Linked DNA regions of Homo sapiens. The protein of the gene in region 2 interacts with the protein of the main gene of each other region in a biochemical or structural test. Each region holds a gene or a part of one and is shown on either strand. Other genes may lie near its edges.

Region 1 (4,582 bases), on a different chromosome or scaffold from region 2:
AGCAGTGACTCTTTCATCATCTATCCTGTATGATTGTCCCAATAATTAATAATAAAGTACTATAGTAGCAACTTGTACTCTCTTGATCCTAACAAAACCCTGTAATGGGCTAATATTACTTCATCCATATGTCTTCTTTGTAGACATAGAAACTGAGGTTTAAAGAGGTTACATTAGTTATTCCAAATCAAACGGCTTGTAAGTGGCAGGGAAGATGGCATTCAAGACCCGGGCTCAAATAACTAGCCTCAATGTATTAAGTAAGGCACTAATGAGGGGCATTGCATATTAAGTAAAGCCCTAGGAAAGGCATTGAGATAGAGGTTCTGAGGACAAAGAGGGCTCTAAATCAACAATCTTAACCGAAAAATACACAAAAAACTTGCTGGGCGAGGTCGGGCCTATAATCCCAGCACTTTGGTACCTGAGGCCGGCAGATTGCTTGAGGCTAACAGTTCGAGACAAGCTTGGGCAACATAGCAAGACCCTGTCTTTACAAAACAAACAAACAAACGAAAAATACACAAAAGCAACACCAGAGGCCCATTTGCATGGCGTGTTTTTGTTTATTTGTTTGGCCTAATATGGTTTCGTTTTGTTTGGAAGAAGGGATTGTGCCCTCCAAGCCTTTGTCGTTTCACTCACCTCTCCCAACCTGGCCCTGTCCAGCCCCTCCCTGGAGGGCTGGGCATATGGATGCTGGAGGTCACAGGCTGCCCAGGCAGGTTGGTGACCTCGGAGGCAGAACCACGGCCTCGAGTCGGGCCTCTAACGGCGAAAAGACTGACGCGGTTGGACCGCGCCATTCCCGAAATGTTAAGGAGCTTAAACTCCGCATCGTCCTCCAAGATAAGTAGGAAAAGGGCAGTCAGAAAGAACGTCTTCCCCGTCCGCCGTCTTCCTGCGCGCCCTTCTAGGAACCCAGCGTCCATCCCACGGCCTGATTTACTAAGGGAGTCTTGTAGCATACGGGAGGGGGAAAAGTCATTGATTGCAATTACGGTAATTTGGTTAGTTACTCAAACGGTCGTTTACATATAACTTGCATGTTAATATACTTCTGGAAGTATGCATATGTCCATACTTCTTTAACAGGGCACCCACGGCCGCCTGCTCACCCTACTTATGCAGCAAATTTTACTTCTCTCTCGGCTTCTTTAGCCTCGCAAACGCTATCGCTTAGGTCCGCTTCTTAAATATTGGCCCCTCCTCCCACCCGTAAGCTCCTCCCTTCGCCCTCTCTCCCTCGAGAGCTTCCAAACATCTTTTCCCCGCCCCCTTTTCTATTTCTGAACAGGCATGTTCCAGGCAGCTCACCCGACTCCTTAGATTACTATGGAATCGGTAGGGTCCTGACCGCTGGGGAAGCAGGAAAGCGTATCCTGGGAAGAAAGGCTTGGCTTGGACTCCGGAGAAGAATACTACATCGAGACCTGCTGGGGAATTTTATTTTATTTTATTATTTTTTTGGTCTTGGTTGTACTGAGGGAGGAAGAAGAGGTTGTGTGGCCCGGTCGAACTTGTGGCAGCCTGAAGGCCCCCTCAGGCGGCGCCGCGGGCAGCCCCGCAGCCGGGGCCTGGTGCAGCCTCCGCGGCCGCTGTCAGGGAAGCGCAGGCGGCCAATGGAACCCGGGAGCGGTCGCTGCTGCTGAGGCGGCAGTGTCGGCAGTCCAACCGCGACTGCCCGCACCCCCTCCGCGGGGGTCCCCCAGAGGTAAGCTACTCCTCCTTCATGAGTCACCTTTGCCCTGTTGGGTGGGGGGGGGGGTCCCTCTCCCACCCTGTCCCGCACAGTCTTCCCCACCTGAGTTCGACTACGAAACTGCCCTCTTGGTGTCAGCTGCACCCCGGGTTCCTTCTCCACCCTTTCCTCTCAGGCCTGGGGTCCTCCTCCGCTTTTTGGCTTCCTCTTCTATTAGCTCCTCCCTCTGCCTCGGGGATTCCCCCCTCCCTCACTCATCCCTGTTGCCTACGTCTCGAATAATTCTTTTTTTTAAGTCATGAACCCTTTCCATATCAGACGACTCCCATAATGCCCATCCTTGTCCTTCCTCGTCGTCTCTGCCCCTGCCCCAAACCTTTTCCATGGACTCCACCTTTATCTCTTTTCCTAGTTTGCACTTTTCCTCCTATGTCCCTGTGCAACTCCAGCACTGGGTTCCCATTTCCCTGAGCTAAAGATTGCATCCCTGTCTTCCTGTGCTGCTTCTGATTCCATTACCTCACTGTCACCCACCTACCCAGCCAGCTCCTGGCTTCCAAGAATTGCCTGTTCCCTTCTCCTTAAGGGATCTCGGGCCCTTGTCATCAATCCAAAAGTACCATTTACATTCTTACTTTGAACCTAGTCCTCACTCTTCTCTGGGATGCATTATGATCCCTATAACTTTCTTTAGCTTCTCTTTCTCCCTCCTCAATCCCCCAACTTTCTAGAGGTTTCTGTCTGTAGGGGAGAGATTTGACAGTGCCCTTCCCATTCAGGATTTCCAACTTTGACACCTCCCTCGAGTTTCAGGGATTTCTCTGATCCTTGTGACATTTGTTCTGTTTTTCCCGTGGGCTTCATGTGTTCTCTGTTACACTCTTTATCTCCACATACCACTTATTTCAGGATCAACTAAACCTTGAACTAAGAAGAAAAATGTGTTGTGAGCAGGGGGAGCCTCAGCTGCCTCAGGCCGTTCAGGACAGAAGGGTGTTTCTGAAGGCCGGAGCAAGTTTTGAAGAAGTCCCTATCAGATTACACTTGGTTGACTACTCCGGAGCAGCCACTAAGAGGGATGAACAGGCCTGCGTGGAAATTGAATGAGATTGTGAGAAAACTTGTTTCAGATTATTTAATTTTAGGCTTTTGTTAAAGGAATCACAGAATAGAGTGCCTTCTCACCCCTGTCCAGATCCATGAGGAATCAGTTTATTCTTGTGGTTTACTAGAATAGTTTTGGTTGGTTCCATAAGAATTCAGGCCTGGAGTGGGGTAAGGGTATAACTGGAAAAAGGAACATGAGACAATGGAAAGAGCTTGTACATTCAGAATCGGGACTCCTGGGTTCAGCATGTGACTTCCTCACTTGACCTCTAGAGTGATCCTTTTGGAAAATGCCCACTCTCTGTAGGCATCAGTGCAGTAATAAGTTGGTAGCAGGATGTGGGTTGGGGGAAAAAATCAGATTTGGTTTATTTGTTTACAAAACATTTTGGGTTCCTCAGGCAAAAGGTATTTATTAGTAGTGGTTTAGTCATCCTGAGAATTTTCCTTCACCTTGGTCTTTCTGTCAGATGTTTCTAGTCCACAACCAGGGGTGTAAGTCATTTTGAAAGACAAGCTCCAGGCCTGCTTCCTTCATCTGCTTTGCTTTTTCCCCCAGTGCATTAAGTGGCTGATTTTCTGTCCTGTTCCTCACGTACTTGATCCATAACTCCAGATTCTATAGGTAGAAAGTATGTTTGTGGGAAAGCACTTTGAGGAAGCTGGCTGGAAAAGAGAACTTGGAGTGAACTGAGACTTAGGCAACTAGTTGCTGCCATGTCTCTCTCAGCCTGTGATAGCGAAAGGGCACGTGAGATTCCATTCATTTTCTGATTCTAGGTCTGTTTGGGAGTAGTTATGTCATCTTATCCCACTTCCTTTCTCTTCCTTGTCGTTAGTCATGGTGCAGTCTCCTCATAATTCCCCTTATTAGAAGCTTTCCTGCCAGGCGCGGTGGCTCACACCTGTAATCCCAGCATTTTGGGAGGCCGAGGCAGGCAGATCACCCGAGGTCAGGAGTTCAAGACCAGTCCGGCCAACATGGTGAAACCCCATCTCTACTAAAAATACAAAAAATTAGCCGGGCATGGTGGCGAGCTTCTGTAATCCCAGCTACTCCGGAGGCTGAAGCAGGAGAATTACTTGAACCCAGGAGGCGAAGGTTGCAGTGAGCCGAGATCACGCCACTGCACTCCAGCCTGGGTGACTGAGTGAAACTCTGTCTCAGGAAAAAAAAAAAAAAAAAAGCAGCTTTCCTCCTTGGAAGCATCCCCAACCAGAAATCATATTTCCTCTCATTTCCCTGCTTTCTTCTTAGAGTTGAGTCCACGCTCCATGAGAATGCTGAACACCATCCAAAGCAGCAAATTGAGATTCCTTGATTTGGGGAAGAGGTTTGGGAGGAACCCTTCAATAATTGGCATGGGACAAGAGGGGACCCAGTCCAAGTGTATTTGGGACTCGCAGTAGGGAGGAACAATTCAGAGAGAGGTGAGTGCACAGGCTGCTTTCTTTGCCATCTGTTTCAGTAGCGGCTCCCATAGCTGGCTTGGGCTGTCTGGCTGGAATCTGCTTATACCAGCTCCATGGCTCTGCACAGAGTTCTCAGCCTGAATCAATATTGACTTAACTACCATGAGACCACTGCCCTCCCTACCCTCGTGCTAGTAGCTTGAGAATGCCCTCTCCCCTAATGCCCACACTCTCTGGGCCCTTGTGTCAGCAGTTACCTGGATCCTGGTAGGGCTGGAGCTGGCTTGACTGCCTGGCCCTGAGTTTCTATAAGGAAAAAGGAGTACTCAATCTCTACCTTTACCATTGAGGTCAAAGGGG
Region 2 (3,808 bases):
ACAAAAATTAGCCAGGTGTGGTGGCACATGCCTGTAATCCCAGCTACTTGGGAGGCTGAAGCAGGAGAATTGCTTGAACCCAGGAGGCAGAGATTGTAGTGGGCCGAGATTGTGCCACTGCACTCCAGCCTGAGCAACAGAGCGAGACTCTGTCTATAAATAAATAAACAAATAAAATAAAGGGATGGGGCATTGGGCTGCCAGGGCCGAGGTATCAGTGGCTGGAGCTGAGTGCGTGGGAGAGCCCGGGGCCTGGGATGTTACCCAGAGGAGCACCCCTCTCCTTCCCCCAACTCCAGCCCCCACCTCCTCCCCACAGTCCACTCTGCTCCCACAATTATGGTGTGGCCTGCTACAGTCAACATTAGAAAATAAAATAGTGCATTGAGAGGAGGAGCTTTTGCATAAATAAAGTTCTCTTTTATTTCTTAAAAAAAAAAAAAAGAAAGAAAGAAAAAGAAAAAGAAACTGCAGGGTCTTCTTGCTGCCGATGGACTGAAGTGTGAAAGTCTTACTGAGCAGGGAGTTCTGGCCAGCTGGTTTCCATCTTCCCTCCCCTCCACGCACCCTGCATTCCTCCTAATGCCGCCAGGGGCCTGCACAGCTTCCCCTCCCAACTCCCTCTCAGCCTCCCTCCACTGGGCCTCGCACACGCGGGCCCCCTGGCTGGAGCCCTTAACGCCCCCTCCCCAGCTCCTCTCATCCCCAGCTCCTCTCATCCCCAGCTCTGCGCCTACCAGGCAGGTCCTCTCCTGCTCACAACTCCCTCTCTCCTCCTTGCCTGCAGTTTCCTGAGGTTTTTTTTTAAATCCTGCTGCCACTCTAGACTGATCGCCCTGAGAGCAGGGACCCATCTATCTTATCCCCCAGTGGATCCCTGGTACCAACACGTGGCTGCATTCAGTCGTTATTTGGTCAATGAATGAGTGAGTAAGTGAATGACTGAAAGCAAGAATCAAAGCAATGGCTATGAAAGAGGTGGGTCCGGCACTGAACCTGGGTCTTGGGTCCCCACCGACCCTCCTGCGGCCCAAGTCTGCACCTGCCCGAGTGCAGCCAAGGCTCCTGCCAGCCTCTGCCCCCAGCCCTCCCTGTCCACCTGCCTCAGCGAGCTCCTTCCTGCTGCCGGTGCCTCCAGGAAACCCTCCCACCTGGAAGCACAGATGTCTGCGCTGCTCTCTGAACCCTGGACAGTCAGCCTGGCCTAGTTACGTGGCCGTGTGAGGGCCACCTGCCCAGGGCCCAGGCCTGCCCTCTGCAGACACAGCTGGGACGCCATCTGTGGTCACTGCAGTGGGTGTCTGGCACCCCTGCCTGGTGAGGGCCGAGGGCTGCCTCCCTCTGACCTGGGCCCTCCAGCTGCTGCCACACAGGGCCAAGGGGGCAGGACTTACACCGTAGCTTCTCATCCAGGGTTCCCCGTGAGGTCACCGACAGCGCCTGGATGAACTCGGAGAACTCAATTCGCCCGTCCTGACAGGAGAGAGAGGGGATTGCCTCAGTCAGTGCCGGCCAGGCCACCGGGTCAGGCTGAACCTCGGGACGGGCGAGGGGCAGTCGCAGGCTCCAGACACTGTGGCCAATGGACACTCAGGTGGAGAGGGCAGGCTCGAAGGAATGGGGGGCGAGAGGCAAGGAGAGGGTGGGGAGCAGAGGCTGGGGGACTGTGTGGGGGGTTAGAAGTGGGAGAGGCCAGGAGGGAGGCACAGGAAGAAGGACTGAGGCTGAACGGAGAGGCTTACTCCACTCTTGATGGGAGAAGGTGCCAGAAGCACCAATGCCTGAGCTCCTCTCAGCAACAGCCCGGAAGCCCCTCGGCCTAGAGCTGTGGGCTCATGGGCTTTTGCAGAGGAAAGGCCGCTGCAGGTTGTTTAATTCCACCTCTTATTTGCAAATGAAGAAACCGAGGCCCAAGAAGGGAAGAGCCCTTCCCAGGGTCAGGCATGTGACTCCCAGCCTGGGGGCACCTGGGAGAAGCTGGGGATGGGATAGAATAGAAACCTCCACGGTGCCAGCAGCAGGGGGTACAGAGACAAGTGGCAGTAAATCCACCCTCAAATGCTACTGCAGGACAGAATCAGGGTCATCGCAGATAACCCAACAGCTATCCGTGCAGCCACTGCCCGGAGGTGACACAAGCTACCACATGGTAAGTCTTGAAAACATGATGCTCAGTGGAAAACGCCAGGAACAAAAGATCCTATAGCCTACGATTCTCAGAGCCTCAGTTTCCTGACCTACAAAATGGGTATTAAAATACCCAGCTCCCAGGTGCTTGTAAGGCCTCATTAAAAATAATCCATGTATGGCCGGGCAAGGGGGCTTACACCTGAAATCCCAGCACTTTGGGAGACCAAGGTGGGTGGATCATCTGAGGTCAGGAGTTCAAGACCAGCCTGGGCAATACGGTGAAACCCCATCTCTACTAAAAATACAAAAATTAGCCAGGTGTGGTGACGGCGCCTGTAATCCCAGCTTCTCAGGAGGCTGAGGCAGGGGAATTGCTTGAATCTGGGAGGCAGAGGTTGCAGTGAATTGAGACTGCACCACTGCACTCCAGCCTCGGCAACAGAGCAAGACTCTGTCTCAAAAAAAAAAAAAATCCATGTAAAGAGCTTAAACATAGTAAATGTTCAGGAAATATTGGTTATTATTATTAATCCTGTTATTATCATGGGAGGTATTTGCATTTTATGCTTGTAAGAGAAGTGTCAGGGTGTACATGTGTATACATGCATGTGTGTTGTGCACTGTATACATATGCATATGTGTATATGTCTCTCTGTGTGTACACGTGTGTGCACCTGCAAGTCCATGCATTGTGTGCATATGTGTGCATTTCTGTGCACTGTATGAATATACATGTATGTTCACGTGTGTGGCTGCATCTCCATGTATGTGTGCCCACATGTGTGCATGGTATTCGCCTGCATGTGCACATACACGTCTGTGTGAGAGCTTGGATGTGCATGTCAGTACATGTGTGGGTGTACATATGTGTGCACACATGTGCATGCATTTGGATGCATCTGTGTTTATTGTGTGTCTGCATGTGTACATGTGCATGCATTTATGTGCGACTATGTATCTGTGCATGTCAGTATGCACTCGTGTGTGTGTTCCTTCTCTAGAAGGGAACATCGGCAGGAGAGAGTGGGTGTGGAGACGCTGCGGGTACCCACAGGAGCTGAGCCAGCTGCCGCAGGCCCCATCAATCCCCAGCTCACCTTGTTTTCATCAAAGACGTTGAAAACAAATGTGGCAAACTTGGTGGGGTCTCCGAACGGGAAGAATTGCTTGTAGATCTTCTGGAAGCCTGCCGCATCCAGCTGCCCACTGGGGCAGTCCTTGATGAAGCCTTTGTACCTGGAGGCAGCAGACCGGGCCAGAGAGGGTAAAGGAGACGCCAACATCACCCACCCACCACCAACATCGCCTGCCCGGGGCCCAGGAAAGCTGTGGCTCCTTGTTCAAAGAGATGGTGCCCCATGGGGCCATGGACTTGATAGGCACAGGCGCAGTCCCACCTCTGCCTCTCACTAGCAGTGTGACCTTGGATACAGACTTCACCTCTCCTAGCCTCGTCTGCATAAGGGGGTTACGAACTGACATAGGAATTAACCCAGATACTGCACACAGAGTGAGCACTTGGCCACCCAGCCCTGTGCTCCACCCAAGGGGGCTAAAACAAGAGTCACATGAATGGCCTCCCCAAAGCCGCATGCCTGCACAAGACCCTCCCACCTCCCCACCTTCTCTGCTGAGCCCCTCCTGGCATCAGGCTGGGTGGGCTGCTGCTGGTGCTGGT

What was found.
Region 1: the proteins of NCS1 (region 2) and PI4KB form a complex in vitro, tested with the Homo sapiens proteins (one study listed by BioGRID).

The regions. Positions count from the first base shown.
Region 1 is NC_000001.11:151,324,403-151,328,984, reverse strand, and holds the start of PI4KB (phosphatidylinositol 4-kinase beta), read left to right. Parts: upstream 1-1,568; 5' UTR 1,569-1,714; intron 1,715-2,611; exon of another isoform or gene 2,612-2,805; coding exon of another isoform or gene 2,806-2,813; intron 2,814-4,067; exon of another isoform or gene 4,068-4,240; intron 4,241-4,582. UniProt on the Homo sapiens protein: Phosphorylates phosphatidylinositol (PI) in the first committed step in the production of the second messenger inositol-1,4,5,-trisphosphate (PIP). May regulate Golgi disintegration/reorganization during mitosis, possibly via its phosphorylation.
Region 2 is NC_000009.12:130,217,390-130,221,197, reverse strand, and holds part of NCS1 (neuronal calcium sensor 1), read right to left. Parts: intron 3,367-3,808; coding exon 3,228-3,366; intron 1,474-3,227; coding exon 1,395-1,473; intron 1-1,394. UniProt on the Homo sapiens protein: Neuronal calcium sensor, regulator of G protein-coupled receptor phosphorylation in a calcium dependent manner. Directly regulates GRK1 (RHOK), but not GRK2 to GRK5. Can substitute for calmodulin. Stimulates PI4KB kinase activity.